2 linked regions of the Homo sapiens genome follow. The protein of the gene in region 1 interacts with the protein of each later gene in a pairwise test. Each region holds a gene or a part of one and is shown on either strand. Other genes may lie near its edges.

Region 1 (3,808 bases):
GATCCGTCTGCCTAGGACTCCCAAAGCGTTGGGATTACAGGTGTGAGCTTCTGCACCTGGCCCTGTTTCTCATTATTCTCCTTACCATTGTTATTGAATGGCCTTTAGTTAATAAGCACCACTTGGGCAGACAGTGGACTGTTTTTGATGCTTTGAGGACGAATGGGGTTGATATCTGTACAGATAGACAGGAAAACAGATATCGGGCACGTTAAGTGGAAAAGATGAAGAAATGGAACAACGTATGTTGAAAGCTCCCATTTCTGGTTAAGACGTTACAAAGGAAATGCCATCTACGATACCATTGCTTTGGGCTTACAGCTGGGCAAATTATATGCACAGAAAGTTTCCTGGATTGGGCTGGGCATGTTGACTCACGCCTGTAATCCCAGCACTTTGGGAGGCCGAGGTGGGCGGATCATGAGGTCAGGAGATTGAGACCATCCTGGCTAACACGGTGAAACCCTGTCTCTACTAAAAATACAAAAAATTAGCCGGAAGTGGTAGCGGGCGCCTGTAGTCCCAGCTACTCGGGAGACTGAGGCAGGAGAATCATGCGAACCCGGGAGGTGGAGCTTGCAGTGAGCCGAGATCGCACCACTGCACTCCAGCCTGGGCGACAGAGTGATACTCCGTCTCAAAAAAAAAAAAAAAAAAAAAAAAAAAAAAAGAAAGTTTTCGTTTTCTGGATTGTAATCAACAAGGGCCAGGAAGGGTGGAGTCTTTGCGGGGTGAGAGGATGCGTGTGGACAGTGATAACAGCAGCTAGCCTACGTATGACACCCACTGAAAACCAGCGCTATACACTCAGCTCTACCCTTCTAACTTGTTGAATTCTTACAACACCCCCTAAGGCAGGAATATTATTATTCCCATTTTACTGAGGCACAGATAGTTTAGGTGACTTGCCCAAGGCCACACAGCTGGTAGGAATTTGAGGGTTTTTGTTGTTGTTGTTTGTTTGTTTGTTTTTTATGATGCAGTCTCGCTGTTGTCGCCCAGGCTGGAGTGCAGTGGCATGATCTTGGCTCACTGCAACCTCTGCCTCCCGGGTTCCAGCGATTCTCTTGCCTCAGTCTCCCGAGTAGCTGGAATTACAGGAGCCCACAACCATGCCTGGCTGATTTTTGTATTTTTAGTAGAGACCAGGTTTCACCATGTTGCTCAGGCTGGTCTTGAACTCCTGGCCTCAAGTGATCCGCCCACCTCGGCCTCCCAAAGTGCTGGGATTACAGGTGTGAGCCACTGTGCCCGGCTAGGGGGGGTTCAGTTTTTAAATGCTGTACTCTTTCTTTCTTTCTTTCCTTCCTTCCTTCCTTCCTTCCTTCCTTCCTTCCTTCCTTCCTTCCTTCCTTCCTTTCTTTCTTTCTTTCTTTCTTTTTCTTTCTTTCTTGGGACAGGGTCTCACTCTGTTGCTCAGGCTGGAGTGCAGTGGCGCGATCATGGCTAACTGCAGCCTCAAACTCCTGGGCTCATGTGATCTTCCACCCCAGTCTTAGAAAAGGTTGGGATTGCAGGCACGAACCACTATGCCTGGCTAATTTTTAAATTTTTTGTAGAGACAGAGGGTCTCACTGTGTTGCCTAGGCTGGTCTTGAACTCTTGGCCTCAAGCGATCCTTCCTCCTCAACTCAGCCTCCCAATGTACTGGGATTACAGGTGTGAGCCACTGCACCTGGCTAAATTCTGCACACCTTTTACTCTAGGGATAAAAATAATACGAAAGTGGAATGCCAGACTCCGAATACACACACCAAGTGGCCTGGACTCTTCACTGCTACCTGGCATGGGGGAGGGGAGTGCCCCAACTTCCTCTCTGTCCTTCCTGTTGCCTCAACACCAGCTGGAGTGCTGAGCAGTGCCAGCCAACCCATAATAGTCAGCAGAGAGCCTCAGGGCCAGGTCACTCTGACATTGTGGGGGTGGGGGGGTGGGGACTCCTGCCTGGGTCCTGTGCTACCCACAGCTTTGTCTACCGGAGCCTGTGTGCCACGTGCTGGACAAATCTTAACTCCTCAAGGACTCCCAAAACCAGAGGTAGGTTCACCTCAATGACTCTTGTTTCCCCGATGAGGAAATAGGCACAGCCAGCTGCAACTGACACCCACAGTCATGGAGGCCGGGGCTGCTCAGGACCACTTGCTGTGCTGCCTGCCAGCTCTCCAGAGCCCAAGATTTGGAGATGGTAATATTCTAGGGCATGGGGTTCTGCAGCGGGGACTAACACACTTTGAAATTTACCTACTTAGGGCTGGGCGCGGTGGCTCATGCCTGCAATCCCAGCACTTTGGGAGGCTGAGGTGGGCGGATCACAAGGTCAGGAGTTCGAGACCAGCCTGGCCAATATGATGAAACCCCGTATCTACTAAAAATACACAAATTAGTTGGGCATGGTGGCGGGTGCCTGTAGTCCCAGCTACTCAGGAGGCTGAGGCGGGAGAATTGCTTGAACCCTGGAGGCGGAGGTTGCAGTGAGCCGAGATTGCGTCACTGCACTCCAGCCTGGATGACAGAGCGAGACTCTGTCTCAAAAAAAAAAATTTTACCTACTTAGCTGAGTGATCTTAGGTAAATTACTTAACTTCTCTGTGCCTTATCTGTAGAATAAATATAACAATAGTGTCAAATTCAGACAGTTATTATAAGGTTTCAGTGAGGTCAGGCACGGTGGCTCATGCCTGTAATCCTAGCACTTTGGGAGGCCGTGGCAGGCAGACCACTTGAGGTCAGGAATTCCAAACCAGCCTGACCAACATGGTGAAACCCCGTCTCTACTAAAAATACAAAAAATTAGCCCCGGGCATGGTGGTGCACGCCTGTAATCCCAGCTACTCGGGAGGCTTGTGGCAGGAGTAATGCTTGAACCCAGGAAGCAGAGGTTGCAGTGAGCCAAAATAGCGCCACTGCACTCCAGCCTGGGTAGCAGAGTGAGACTCCGTCTCAAAAAAAAAAATAAATAAAATAAAATAAAACAAGGTTTCAGTGATACAGTGTTTAAAGCTGCGTGGTGGCCACTGCCTGTAGTCCCAGCTACTCAGGGGGCAGAGGTGGGAGGATCACTTGAGCACAGAGTTTGAGGCTGCAGTGAGCCGTGATTGCACCACTGCACTCCAGCGTTGGCAAGATGGCGAGACCCTGTCTCTAAAAAAAATATATATATATAAATTTGCCAGGTGTGGTGGTGCACACCTGTAGTCCCACGTACTCAGGAGGCTGAGGTGGGAGGACCACTTGAGCCCAGGAGTTCGAGGCTGCAGTGAGCCAAGATAGTGCCATTGCATTCCAGCCTGAGTGACAGAGCAATATCTGTCCCTAAAAAAAAAAAAAAAGTTGACACAAAACACAAAATGTTCAAGAAACAGTGGCTTCCAATAATAATAATTTTATTATTATTATTATTGTCAGGCACAGTGGCAATCATGCCTGTAATCCCAGCAGTTTGAGAGGCTGAGACAAGGCAGGTTGCTTAAGCCCCAGAATTCAAGACCAGCATGGGCAACATGGTGAAACCAGATGACCTCCAAAATAATAATAATAATAATAATAATAATAATAATTAATCAGGCATGATGGTGTGCACCTGTAGTCCTAGCTACTTGGGAGGGTGAGGTGGAGGGTTGCTTGAGCCCAGGAGATGGAGGCTGCAGTGAGCTGGGAAAGTGCCGCTGCAGTCCAGTCTGGGCTACAGAGCCAGACCCTGTCTCAAAAAATAGTAATAATATAGTAATAATATTATTGTGGCCCGACATGGTGGCTCACGCCTGTAATCCCAGCACTTTGGGAGGCTGAGGCAGGTGGATCACCTGAG
Region 2 (3,908 bases), about 12 Mb from region 1:
TCTCCGAGTCCACCTCCACGCAGCCCCCGCAGGCTGAGGACACTGTGGGGACAGCAGGCTCAGGTCAGGCAGAGGCACCCATTGCCCTAAGCAATGCCAGACCCCTCACAAACCATCTGTTCCCCCCTCAATGATTACCAGCAGACAGGACTGGATGCTAGGCTGAGCCCTGTCACTCACTGCGTGACCTCAGCAAGTCATTCATCCCTGAGTCTCAGTTTCCCTCTCTCTTGTTGAAAGAAATGGTCCTTTGCTTCCAGCAATGGCTGGGCCCATTTTCATACATTAGGTAGGGCCTTGTACATGGGAGGCCCCATAAGTGGGACTGTCAACGTTGCCGGTAACTCAGACTTTATGCTACCCGAGTGCCCCTTCCTCAGAAAGTCCCTTGCTGGAGGAACCCAAGCATCTAGGTGGTAGAATGAGAATTCCAGCTAAGTTAGAAGTTTAAGGTGGCAGTCATTTTCACCATTAAATTGTAAAACCAGCTAGCTCCAGGAGAAATGGGTTGGGAGAAAAGGTCTGGGGGTGGGGGATTGTGGGGAGGTGGGCACTGAAACCGGGGCTGACCCACACTCAGCCCCTCTCCACAGCCCACAAGCCCCTGTGTGAGCCATCCCCTCCCCGGCCTCTCCTGCCTCCATCATCCCCTCTTCCCCAGGCTCCTCGCCTCTAGAGCTCTTCCCACCCCAACCCCATCCACTACTCAAAGCTTTCCTGAGCTCTCTCCTGCCCCAGGGCTTTTGCAGCCCACTGAATTCCAGTCTTAGAATTCCTTCACACTCTTACCTGGCACCTCCTTTCTGCCTCCCAGCACTCTGTAGCTAACGCTGTGTCTCTTCTGCTGCAGCCCTGTGCTGTCCTTGTTTCCTGATCCTCAGGACTTCTCATCCATCCGCCTCCCCTGCGGTCCCTTTCAGACTCCCTGAGGGCCTCTGTCTCAGTCCCTCCTATCTTTGTCCCTCTCAGGGGTCTCTCTGAAGGTCCCTCCACTTTTTGTCCACTCTCTGGGCTCAGAAGGAGACCTCTCCTAATCTCTTTCCACCTTTCTACGTCTATCCCTTTTCAAACTCCATGCAAGATTCTCTCCCGGTGTTCACGGGCACCCGCATCTCCCTCTCTCTTCTCTCCATCTCCTTCTGCCTTTCTCAAGTTTCCCTTTCTCCATCGCGCTCAGTCTCTTAACTCTCTCTCTCTCTCTCTCTCTCCAATACCCCTCTCTCTGTCTCCGTCTCCCCCTTGACCCCCATGTCCCCAGCATCCCAGCGGACCACTCCGGTGCGCTCCGAGTCCTTCTCTGTCTCTCGCCCCCTTCCTCCCGTCTTCATCTCTCCCTGTCCCTCCGTCTTTCCCGTCCCAGTCTCCGGGCGCCGCCTTCCCCCCACCCCCCTCCCGCGGCTGTGGGTGTCACATTGCAGCCTGCGGGGCTCCGGGAGCAGCTGACTCCGCGTTTCCTCGCCCCCGGCTGGGCGCCTGCAGCCGCCAGGCTGTGCCAGCCCGGCCCCCACCCGCTGGAGCCCACCCTCACCTCCACTGCCCTCCCCAAGCCCGGCTCCCGCGCGCACAACTTCTGAAGCTGACTTGGCGGGGCCCGGGGATGGGCCGGGGGTGGCCCTCGCGCGGCTGCCCCGTGTCCCGAGCGCCACTCCCGCCGCCCCGCCAGTGCCCCCGCGGTGCCCCCCGGCCGCGCGCGCCCCCCGCGCACTCACCCAGTGCCGCGCCGACCACTAAGGCCAGCAGCCTCCCCATGGCTGCGCGGCGCGTGCTGCGCCCCCCTCCCGGGCCGCCGGTATTAATAGCGGGGCGAGAGGCGGCGGGACCTGGCGGCGGTTAGAATGTCCCCGGGAGCGCGCGGGCGCAGCAGCTGCGGCTCTGGGACCGGCGAGGGGGGAGGAGGGGGGGCGCGGCCCCCCCGCTCCGGTTACCGCCGGGGGCCCAGCCCCGGGGCCCGGCGTCCGGGCATCCCCGCCGCGCGGGCGGCGGCCGCTGCTCGGGCTGCTGCGCTGGCGCGCGCAGCCGGGCACATCCGCTAGGTGCACCGACCCCGGTCCCGCTCCGGCTCGGGCGCGCTCGGGCGCGGACCGCGGTCTCCTGCGCACTGCAGCGGCGGCGGCGGCGGCGGCGGCGGCGGCCTAGGGAGGGACGAGGGAGGAGAGGGAGGGGGCGGGATGAATCACCGCGGGGGGAAGGCGCGGCCGCCCAGCCTTTGCCGCAGCGGCCCGGGAGGCGCCCGCTGCACCGGCCTCTCCGGGTGGCGCAGGGACCGCGACTTCTGGGAACGGGGAGGGTGGTCTGTGTGTCTCCGACCCCGCTGGGGCTCTGAGGACCACCCCCCCCCCCCCACCTTCCCAGGGAGTCTGGAAAGGTCACCCCCAGAGTCACAGGAGGACTTAGAGCGCAGTTTGGGGGCCGGGTTTCCGACTTCAAATGATGGAGGTCATCCTCAGGAGTTCCAGAGGGCGAACCTCCAAGTTATCTCCCCTGAGCCCTGATATCCAGGCCTGGGGGTCAATGTGCAGGGACCCCAAGTAGGCATTAGAGGAGGGTGGGGGGCCGTCAGGCTAGGACTACAGCTACAATCCGGACCTCACCCAAGCAGGCGGGGCACCCTGGAGAGAAGCAGCCCCGGGAATCTGGAGGTGCTGTTTCAGGAGGAGGACCCCTTCGTGATCCCCTGCACCCATTTATGTCCCTGATGTCACCTTCTACCCCTCTTTCCTCCCACTCCACTCTGGCTGTTCAGGCCCTCCTGCTGTTCCCAACACAGGGAACCCGTTCCTGCCTCAGGGCCTTGGCCCCAGCTCTCCCCTCTGCCCCGGCTCTCCCCCCCTGCCCCGCCCCTCTCCGTGGGCCTCCATGGCTCCAATGTCACCTTCGTCAGGTCTTCTGTGTCCCTTCAGGGTAAACTGCCTTCCCCGCTCCTAACCTGACCTCCTTTACTCTTTACCTCTTGTTGAGTGTTTTCCACAGCAGCCTCACTACCTGACATTATGTTCTTTTTTTTTTTTTTTTTTTTTTTTTTTTTTTGAGATAGGGTCTGGCTCTGTTGCCCAGGCTGGAGTGCAGTGGCTGATCTCGTCTCACTGCAACCTCCGCCTCCCGGGTTCAAGCGATTATCCTGCCGCAACCTCCCAAGTAGCTGGGAGTACAGGTGTGCACCATCATGCCTGGCTAATTTTTTTATTTTTTAGTAGAGACAGGGTTTCACCATGTTGACCATGCTGGGATTACAGATGTGAGCCGCCCCCCGCTATCCCAGCACTTTGGGAGGCCAAGGGGGGCAGATCACCTGAGGACAGGAGTTCGAGACCAGCCTGACGAGCATGGTGAAACCCCGTCTCTACTAACAATACAAAAAAAATTAGCTGGGAGTGGTGGTGGGCACCTGTAATCCCAGTTACTTGGGAGGCTGAGGAAGAATCGCTTGAACCCGGGAGGCAGAGGTTGCAGTGAGCCAAGATCGCATCACTGCACTCCAGCCTGGGCAACAAGAGCGAAACTCCGTCTCAAAAAAAAAGGCCGGGCGCAGTGGCTCACGCTTGTAATTCCAGCATTCTGGGAGGCCGAGGTGGGCGGATCACGAGGTCAAGAGATCGAGACCATCCTGGCCAACATGGTGAAACCCCATCTCTACTAAAAATACAAAAATTAGCTGGGCGTGGGGGCACATGCCTGTAGTCCCAGCTACTCAGGAGGCTGAGGCAGGAGAATCGCTTGAACCCGGGAGGCAGAGGTGGCAATGAGCCGAGATCACACCACTGCACTCCAGCCTGGTGACAGAGTGAGACTCCATGTAAAAAAAAAAAAAAAAAAAAAAAAAAAAAATCTCCCAGGTGAGGATATTGTCTTGTGTCTCTTGCACCTTGAACTGTTCCTGGCACATTGTAGGTACTCAATCAATATTTGTC

What was found.
Region 2: the proteins of C5AR2 (region 1) and SCN1B interact in a two-hybrid assay, tested with the Homo sapiens proteins (one large-scale study listed by BioGRID and IntAct).

Annotation. Positions count from the first base shown.
Region 1 is NC_000019.10:47,335,133-47,338,940, forward strand, and holds part of C5AR2 (C5a anaphylatoxin chemotactic receptor 2), read left to right. Parts: intron 1-1,962; exon of another isoform or gene 1,963-2,037; intron 2,038-3,808.
Region 2 is NC_000019.10:35,028,662-35,032,569, reverse strand, and holds the start of SCN1B (sodium channel regulatory subunit beta-1 isoform a precursor), read right to left. Parts: upstream 2,101-3,908; 5' UTR 1,750-2,100; coding exon 1,710-1,749; intron 1,300-1,709; exon of another isoform or gene 790-1,299; intron 43-789; coding exon 1-42. UniProt on the Homo sapiens protein: Regulatory subunit of multiple voltage-gated sodium (Nav) channels directly mediating the depolarization of excitable membranes.